2 linked regions of the Homo sapiens genome follow. The protein of the gene in region 2 interacts with the protein of the main gene of each other region in a pairwise test. Each region holds a gene or a part of one and is shown on either strand. Other genes may lie near its edges.

Region 1 (4,036 bases), on a different chromosome or scaffold from region 2:
ATCCTAGCATACTCTGAACACATCTTGAGATCAACCCTTCTCAAGTGATTTTGGTGAGCATAGCCAAAGAGTACCCTCTGCTGGTCAGAAAAAAAATGGTGCTTTCACAATACCCAGATTTACTCCAACGATTGCATATGCATTTAGGTTTTGTGGCTCTTAAAATGCTTTTTTTTTTTTTTTTGAGATGGAATTTCGCTCTTGTTGCCCAGGCTGGAGTGCAATGGCGCGATCTCGGCTCACGGCAACCTCCGCCTCCCGGGTTCAAGCGATTCTCCTGCCTCAGCCTCCTGAGTAGCTGGAATTACAGGCGCCCGCCACCACGCCCAGCTAATTTTTTGTATTTTTAGTAGAGACGAAGTTTCACCATGTTGGCCAGGCTGGTCTCGAACTCCTGACCTTAGGTAATCCAACTGCCTCGGCCTCCCAAAGTGCTGGGATTACGGGAGTGAGCCACTGCGCTGGGCCTACTTTTTAAAGTGTATGGAAGCATTAACTTTAATGTTAACATCAGAATTTGAGAAAAAGAAGTTTAATAATTCAAAATTTCGTGTAAAATAATCAAGAACTCCACGTTTCTATCACTCACTGTAGGCTCCCGTCCCTTCCACCCCCGGGCGGGGACCCCTCCCAGCGACCCGGCCAGCTCTCAGCACTTCGGTCCCCACTGGCCTACTCGCTCCGACGGAGGGGCTCCTGCAACTGCGCTGTACCGTAAATATTTGCTGAATCGATTTGACTTTTACTTGTTCCAATTTCGCTTTTTTGTTGTTTTGTTTTTTTGTCTTTTTACGAACAAGAGGTTTAGAGAACCACATGGAAAAAAGGCAGGGCCAGGCCCGGACACCCCGCCTCCTGCCTCCCGGCCCGGCGGTGCCCGGATGCCCCGCCCGCGCCCATGGCGCAGCCACACACGACCTCGGTCCCGTACTTCGCGCGCTCTCCTGCACCGCCGCCGCCATCTCGCTCAGGAGCTCCTCCACAACCGCCGGCAACACTACGGCCATCGCGCCGCAGGACACGCCCTCCACGACCGGCGGACCGCCGCGACGCTCCAGCTGACTGCGCCTACCTGTGGAGGATCCTGACCCCCCGCCGGGGCAGGGCGAGACGGAGTGACGTCGGGGCGCGTCATCGCGCGTGCGGACGCAGGGATGTCCTGCTCAGTCGTCAGGGCCCGGCCAATCCGGAGGGCGCTCGGCGCGTGGTCGGGGGCCAGGAGCGCGTCTGGCCTGCAGTGCGCAGAGGACGCGGCGGGAGCATGTTCCGGCTCCTGAGCTGGAGCCTGGGCCGAGGCTTCCTGCGGGCCGCGGGGCGGCGGTGCCGGGGCTGCTCCGCGCGCCTGCTCCCGGGGCTGGCAGGAGGTCCGGGGCCCGAGGTGCAGGTGCCGCCATCCCGAGTCGCGCCGCACGGCCGGGGCCCAGGCCTGCTGCCGCTGCTGGCAGGTGAGGGGCGCGGGCCGGGCGGGGCCGGCCGGGCGGGGACAGGGGCGCGGGCCGGGCCCGATGACCTCAGAGCCCCTTCCCGCAGCGCTCGCCTGGTTCTCGAGGCCCGCTGCGGCAGAGGAGGAGGAGCAGCAGGGAGCCGACGGGGCCGCTGCCGAGGACGGGGCGGACGAGGCCGAGGCAGAGATCATCCAGCTGCTGAAGCGAGCCAAGGTGAGGCGGCTCCGGGCCCTGCGCCCGGCCGAGCGCGGTAGCCTTTGTGAGCGGGGTCTTGGCGTTGCTGCGCATTACTCTCTCCGCCTCGCCGAAGAGTGGATGGAGGCTCCGCGGGTAAAATTGCCGAGAATGAGGTGGGTCATCCGAGAGGGGATTGGAATCCATCCAGGCTTTTCCGACTCTAAGGCCTGCAGTAAAACCTCTGCAGTGTCAAGTGCAAATGGAGATGGCGCCCTAGGCATCACGCTTTATGCAAACGAAATATCGGGAACGTTTTGTAGTGGTTTTATCAATTAACCAGCCTATCTGAAATGACATAATTTCGCACGTATATAGCGGCCTGAAAATGGCAACTTAGTGTTGGTTATGCGGTTCGGTTCTCCTCCTGAATTCTTCCTTTTCTCCACATCCTTTTCTATTTTTTTTTCCTCCTCTTTTCCCAAGTTATCTCATCTCTTCCATTGAGCTAAATACCTACTCGATGCCAACAACGTCCAAATTTGTATTTCCATTCTGTAGTGTGCTACTGACATGCCATTTGCACTTTAGGACCATACCTACCTCTCAGATTTAACATGCCCAAAACTAAACGATCTTTAATGCCTCCTCAACATACGCTTTCGCCATCTCTTTACTACCATCAGTTTTTCAGCCTAAAAACCTCATAGTCATTCTTAAAACTTGTGGTACCTTACCATTGCCTTCCAATACACTTACAGTCCAGCAACAAGTCCTGTTGCCAACAAATGCAAAATATTTCTCAAATCTTTCCCCTTTTGTCTATCTCCCTTGCTGTCACCCTAGTGCAAACCATCATTGCCACCAACTATGCTCCAGTAGTCTTTCCTGGCCTCCTGGCCTCTTGCAATCTATTCTCCATGCAGAAACCAAAGCGACCAAAAAAAAAAAGAGTAAATTGGATTATGTCATCTCCTTGTCAGAAAGCTCTGAATGGCTACCCACTGCATTTATGATAAAATACAAACTCCTTGCCTTGGCTTGCAACACCCCACATGATCTAAACCAGCATATACCTTGCCCACCCATTTGGCAGTAATCCTCTGGCTCACCATCCTCCCTTCACATCTATTTCTTTGCATTTCTTCCTCAAAACCATTCTCTTCAGCTTGTAGGGACTTCACTCATTCTCTACCCTCTGTTTGAGTCATTGTTCTCCCCAGGTCCTTATTTGGTTGACTCATTCTCATCCTTACTACCTCAGTTTAGCTGTCACTTCCTTGGAAGGCTTCCCTAAGTCCTATTTAGAGGAGACCCCTTATCATTCCTTTCTGTCATCTTTATAGCTCTTATCATTAGTTGTAATTAAGCTTACTTGTCCTATATGGTCACCTCCAGCCTGCAAGAAATTAGAAAGAGGATGGAGGACAAGCAGCTTCCTTATAAAATATGTTGTAAGATCACATTCCTTCTGCCTGTGTCTCTTGGCCAAAACTTCATCAGATGGCCACACCTAGCTGCAAGGGAGGCTGACCTCCCTGTCATCTCTGTAGACAATGCTTTGTACATAGTAGGAATTCAGTAAATGTCTGATGAATGAGTTAGCTTCCTTCTATCAGTTGGGATGTACAGTTGCATACACTTCTGTCTCTTAGCATATGCATCTACTATATGTTTCATTTTCTATTATTTTGTCTTCCCTTTTCAGTTGAGCATTATGAAAGATGAGCCAGAAGAGGCTGAGTTAATTTTGCATGACGCTCTTCGTCTCGCCTATCAGACTGATAACAAGAAGGCCATCACTTACACTTATGATTTGGTAACTCTTATAACCAGTCTGAACCACTGATGAGGAAGGTTGGATGGGAGGGAAGGGTAGTTAGTTCTTCTGATTTATATTCCTGACTTTCACGATGTTCTAAAACTCCTTTTCTTTTTACTGAGTTTTCTTTTGGCTTCAGTTTCATTTTTTGTTTTGTTTTGTTTTTTTGAGATGGAGCCTCACTCTGTTGCCCAGGCTGCAGTGCAGTGGCACAATCTTGGCTCACTGCAGCCTCCGCCTCATGAGTTCAGACGATTCTTTTGCCTCACCCTCCCGAGTAGCTGGATTACAGGCATGCATCACTATGCCTGGCTAAATTTTGTATTGTAGTAGAGACGAGGTTTCACCATATTGGCCAGGCTGGTCTCGAACTCCTGATCTCAGGTGATCCACCTGCCTTGGCCTCCCAAAGTGCTGAGATTTCAGGCATGAGCCACCACGCCCGGCCACAGCTTCAGTTTTTTTACCCTTGGGGTGACATAAGACCTCTCAATTCCAGACCAAAAAAAACCAGTATCATTAGCATGTTTTTTTAATGATGAGTGGACCTAGATTTGGTTTGTTAACAACAAAGTATGTGCAAGTATTTAATTCT
Region 2 (4,206 bases):
AGCCTGGAGAAGCTGGGCAGGACAAGTAGGACATCCCTGGAGCCTCCAGAAGGGACTGGCCTCTGCCCACACCTTGACTTCAGTATTTCTGACCTCCTAAACTCTAATAAAGTCATGCTTACAGCCACTAGATCTGCAGAAGAGCCCTCGCTTGCTCCCCTAGAAGATGGGCCCACATGGCCTCTTCCTGCAGTGCCTGGAGGGTTCTAGCTCCTGAGGTGAGAACCAGGACAGGTTCTGCTGGGCATCACGCCAAGCAGCACATGCCCACAGTACAGCTGAAGTCTGGTGTTGTCCTGGGGCTCCCTGCCCTGGGGAACAGGAGGACAGGAGACGGCTCTTGTGGGAAAGCTGTTTACTGCGTTCTCCCGCTGTGTGTAATTGGGTTCAGTGTGGCTGAAACACAGCTTTGCCCCAGGCTTTGGCACTTCCAGCCCCAGGAGAGGCGCTGAACCCCAGCAAAGGAATGTGTTCCCTGTGGGCAGCCGGTGCCCCTGGTCACTGCAGTTGCCCAAGGCTGATATTTCCCTGGGATCCAGCTGGAGATGTTGGGCTGGGAGGCCCTGTGGTCACTCATACTGCAGGAGAGAGAAGAAGGGTACAGGTGCCAGCTTCTCCCTGCCCTTAAGCGAGGTCAGCTCCACCAGGCTCACGCACTCCAGGACCTCAGCCTGCAGGCGGCCCAGCAGCTCACAGGCAGCGTTCATGGTTCCTGGGGATGGGAGGGTGAGGTCCCCAGTTGGCCTGGGCTGCAGAGAGCAGGTGCTCCAGGCCAGCCCCTGGGTTGGGGAGGGGAAGGCATGGGGAGAGGAAGGTGTCGGCCTGGCCACCAGGCACCCTCTGGACAACAGTAAGCTGCATCCCATGTCACACAGCGAGGTCCTGTCCCACTCCCACCAGGCCCTTGGAGCCACAGCAGTTGGCTGCGGGGAGACCCTTACCACCAGTGGCCAGCAGATCATCCACGACGACCACCCTCTGTCCTGGCTCCAGGGCGTCTTTCTGAATCTCCAGCTCAGCCTGGAGTGGGAAGTGGTGTGTGGTCCTCAGCCTCCCGCAGAAAACAGCTTTGTTGCACAGCTTGGCAGCTGCCACCCTAGACCCTGACTCCAACCCCACCTTGCTGTTACCTGGCTGTGTGAGCCCAGCCTATGTCTCAACCTCTCTGAGCTCCCAAGGCCACTGTAACCACAGCAGCTCCACTTGACACGCCTGGGAAGGCCTTTTAGAACTGGGGGAGAGTGGCCACGGTGGCCTGGCCCTGCCCTTCCTCTGGCCACCCCAGCCCTCTTACCTTCCCGTACTCCAGGGAATAGGAGGCCCACAGAGTGGGGCCTGGCAGCTTCCCCCGCTTTCGGATGAGCACGCAGCCCAGTCCAAGCTCCTGGGCCAGGGAGGGGCCAAAGAGGAAGCCTCGGGAGTCTAGGCCTGTCAGGGTAAGTGACAGGAGTGACTCGGCAGCATGGGAATCCCCAGGGGCCAGGGTTGGCCGGTGGCAAGGGGTACCTGGTTGGCTCCCAGCTGAAAGGCCAGTGACATGCACCATTTAAGGAATGTTACCCATCACCTACCCGGAGCTGCTTCCAGGTCAGAGTGCAGACCTGGGTCTGTCTTTTAAGGGACCACTTCTTAGCTGTGTGTTCCTAGGGGAGTCACCACCCCTCTCTCTGAGCTGAGCAGCCCATCTGTAACTGGGCTGGTAGAAACCTGACAGGCCTCAGCTTACTCTCAAAGGCAGCTCTGCACCAGGGCTTCTGTCTAAAAAGGGAGTCTCTCGAGGTGGCCTGAGCTGTGATGGTTGGGGGACGCTCAGGGAAACCCTGCCCCGGCCTGGCAGGAGGTCAGGGAGGGCTTCCTGCAGGAGGTGAGAAGGGAGCTCTGGCAGTGTTGTGGCTCCAGCAAGAGCTGGCGCTTTCCTCAGGGCAGTGTCCAGGGAGTGGGCTGTCACACCCTAGGAGAGGCAAGACGGCCAGGAACACTCTGTTCTCCCTGGGCCACCTCTTGGGCTCTCCCGGAGGCCTCCAGGCCTCCCTTCCCTGGGTGGGCATTCCGTGATCTTCACCAGGGAAGGCCTGGCTCGTGGCAGGCGCTCAATACCAGCTCGCAGAAGGAACAAGAAGCAAGGCAGCTGGGCCCTGTGGATTCAGCTTGGGCACTCCAGGGAGACCAACTGACCCGGCAACTCGGTCACGCCTGTCCTGGGCTGGGGACCCGGAACCTGCGGGAAGGACGCCTGCACAGCGCGGCGGCCTCGGGGGCTCAATCTCACAACCCTTCCCGGGCGACCCAAGCACGGCGCCCGTCCCGGCGCCCCCTGAAGCACCCCAAAGGCCCTCCCCCAAGCAGACGCGCAGAGCCCACGTGCTGCCCTCGGCGCGCGCAGAGGCGGAAGCGCCCTAGATGCGGCCACTGGGCACTCGCCTGCGATGTAGTCGATGCGGCCCCCGTGGGTCGCCTTCAGGTGTCGCGCCAGGAGGCCGATGGCGGCGCGGAAGGAGGCGGGGTCCTTCAGGACGGGCGAGATGTCCCTGGACCCAAGGACAGGCCTGGTGACGCCGGGGCCGAAGGAGGGCAGGGCCCCGGGGGCGAAAGACGAGGGTTCCCGCCCCGCCCGCCCGGAGGTCGCGGGCCACGCGCTCCCATCCGTAGGCCCGCAGGTCGGGGCGCCACGAGGGCGGCCTGTGCGTGCACCTGAATACCACGCCTGGGGTGGGGAAGTCGGGGAAGCTGCGGATCCGCTGCTCAACCAGCTGCAGCTCGGAGTCGGCCATGGCCGCGTGCGAAGAGCCAGCGGCAGCCCGAGCGCGCCTGCGCGGGGACGGGCGGGACCGCCACGAGGGGTGGGGCATCCCCGGAGGGCGGAGCGTGGGTGAGGGGCGGGGCATCCGTCGCCGGAAGCCTGTACCGTATTTCATGGACTCCTAGGCGCCATCGATTTTAAGACGCGCTCGCATTCCACGCACCACTGAGCAGAACGTTCGAACCGGACAAAAGTGCGAGTCAAGGCGCCCTTCCTTGTCTCGGGCTACGCTTCTGACTGCAGCCAGGCAGCTGTGGGCCGGGGCCTTGGCGGCTGGAGGAGGGGCGTGAGCTGGTCTCGCCCACGCACCTGGCGCGCGTACGGGCCGCGCCCTTTCTCCTTTATTGGCCGAGATCCCCACGCTGCGCGCGGGAGGCTGGCGCGCGGGGTGGAGAAGGGCGTGAGGAAGCGGTCCAAGTAGCAGGAGGGCGGTGCAGGGCCCGGAGGGAGCAGCCCAGGGCGGAGGCGGCGGGCCTGGGCTGGACCGGCCGGGGGCGCTGGCCTCTCGCGGATGGGCCCTGCCGTTGAGGCGGCTCTTCCCCGCCCGGACCCGGGGGAGGGAGGCCGGAAGGTGTGGCCAGGCCAGGGCGCGCATCCGCGAGGGCAGAAGCCCTTCTGTCCGCCTGCAGAGGCCAGGTGACCCCTTAGCCTTGGGGTGGGGAGCTGTGAACCCCCTGGCCGCCCGAGGACTGGTACCCAGGGGGTTGTGTGAGGCATAACTCCCCCCAAACACAATTTCCTTTCAAGAAAATCCCCAGAGCTAAAATGCCTTGTGCTCTATTCCAAGACTTTTCTTCATTTCGCAACTTTTTTTTGAGAAGGACTCTCGCTCTGTCGCCCAGGATGGAGCACAGTGGCGCCATCTGGGCTCACTGCAAGCTCCACCTCCTGGGTTCCGGCCATTCTCCCGCCTCAGCCTCCCGAGTAGCTGGGACTACAGGAGCCCGCCACCACGCCCTGCTAATTTTTTGTATTTTTAGTAGAGACGCAGTTTCACTGTGTTAGCCAGGATGGTCTCGATCTCCTGACCCCGTGATCTGCCCGCTTCGGCCTCCCAAAGTGCCGGGATTACAGGCGTGAGCCACCGCGCCCGGCCCATCATTTCGCAACTTTTACAATTCAGCTTTGGCCTGGCAGTTACTGCAGAAGGGAAAACCCACTCAGTGGAAGGCAGCCCCCAGGAGCCTTCGGAGGGGGAGGCCGGAGGCTGCATGCGGCTGCTGGGGCCCCGGTTCCAGGGCGGGTGGGGGACCCATCGTCTGATGCCAAGGGGCGTGGTAGGGGCGGCTGCCTCGCAGTGTGCGGTGGTCAGGGCTGGCAAGGCCTGGGGCCTGGGCTCCAGACCCCTAGGGAAGGTGGAAATGGAGGACCCTGACATCCTCACGTCCCCGGGGAAGCTGCCACAT

Evidence for each region.
Region 1: the proteins of APRT (region 2) and TTC19 interact in binary tests that used the Homo sapiens proteins (3 or more experiments, as listed by UniProt).

What each region holds. Positions count from the first base shown.
Region 1 is NC_000017.11:15,998,588-16,002,623, forward strand, and holds the start of TTC19 (tetratricopeptide repeat protein 19, mitochondrial isoform 1 precursor), read left to right. Parts: upstream 1-1,236; 5' UTR 1,237-1,261; coding exon 1,262-1,445; intron 1,446-1,530; coding exon 1,531-1,658; exon of another isoform or gene 1,659-1,795; intron 1,796-3,327; coding exon 3,328-3,438; intron 3,439-4,036. Other genes in the region: ZSWIM7 (zinc finger SWIM domain-containing protein 7), read right to left, coding at 932-1,007. UniProt on the Homo sapiens protein: Required for the preservation of the structural and functional integrity of mitochondrial respiratory complex III by allowing the physiological turnover of the Rieske protein UQCRFS1.
Region 2 is NC_000016.10:88,809,129-88,813,334, forward strand, and holds APRT (adenine phosphoribosyltransferase), read right to left. Parts: upstream 2,801-4,206; 5' UTR 2,772-2,800; coding exon 2,692-2,771; intron 2,529-2,691; coding exon 2,422-2,528; intron 1,429-2,421; coding exon 1,295-1,428; intron 1,021-1,294; coding exon 942-1,020; intron 713-941; coding exon 570-712; 3' UTR 211-569; downstream 1-210. UniProt on the Homo sapiens protein: Catalyzes a salvage reaction resulting in the formation of AMP, that is energically less costly than de novo synthesis.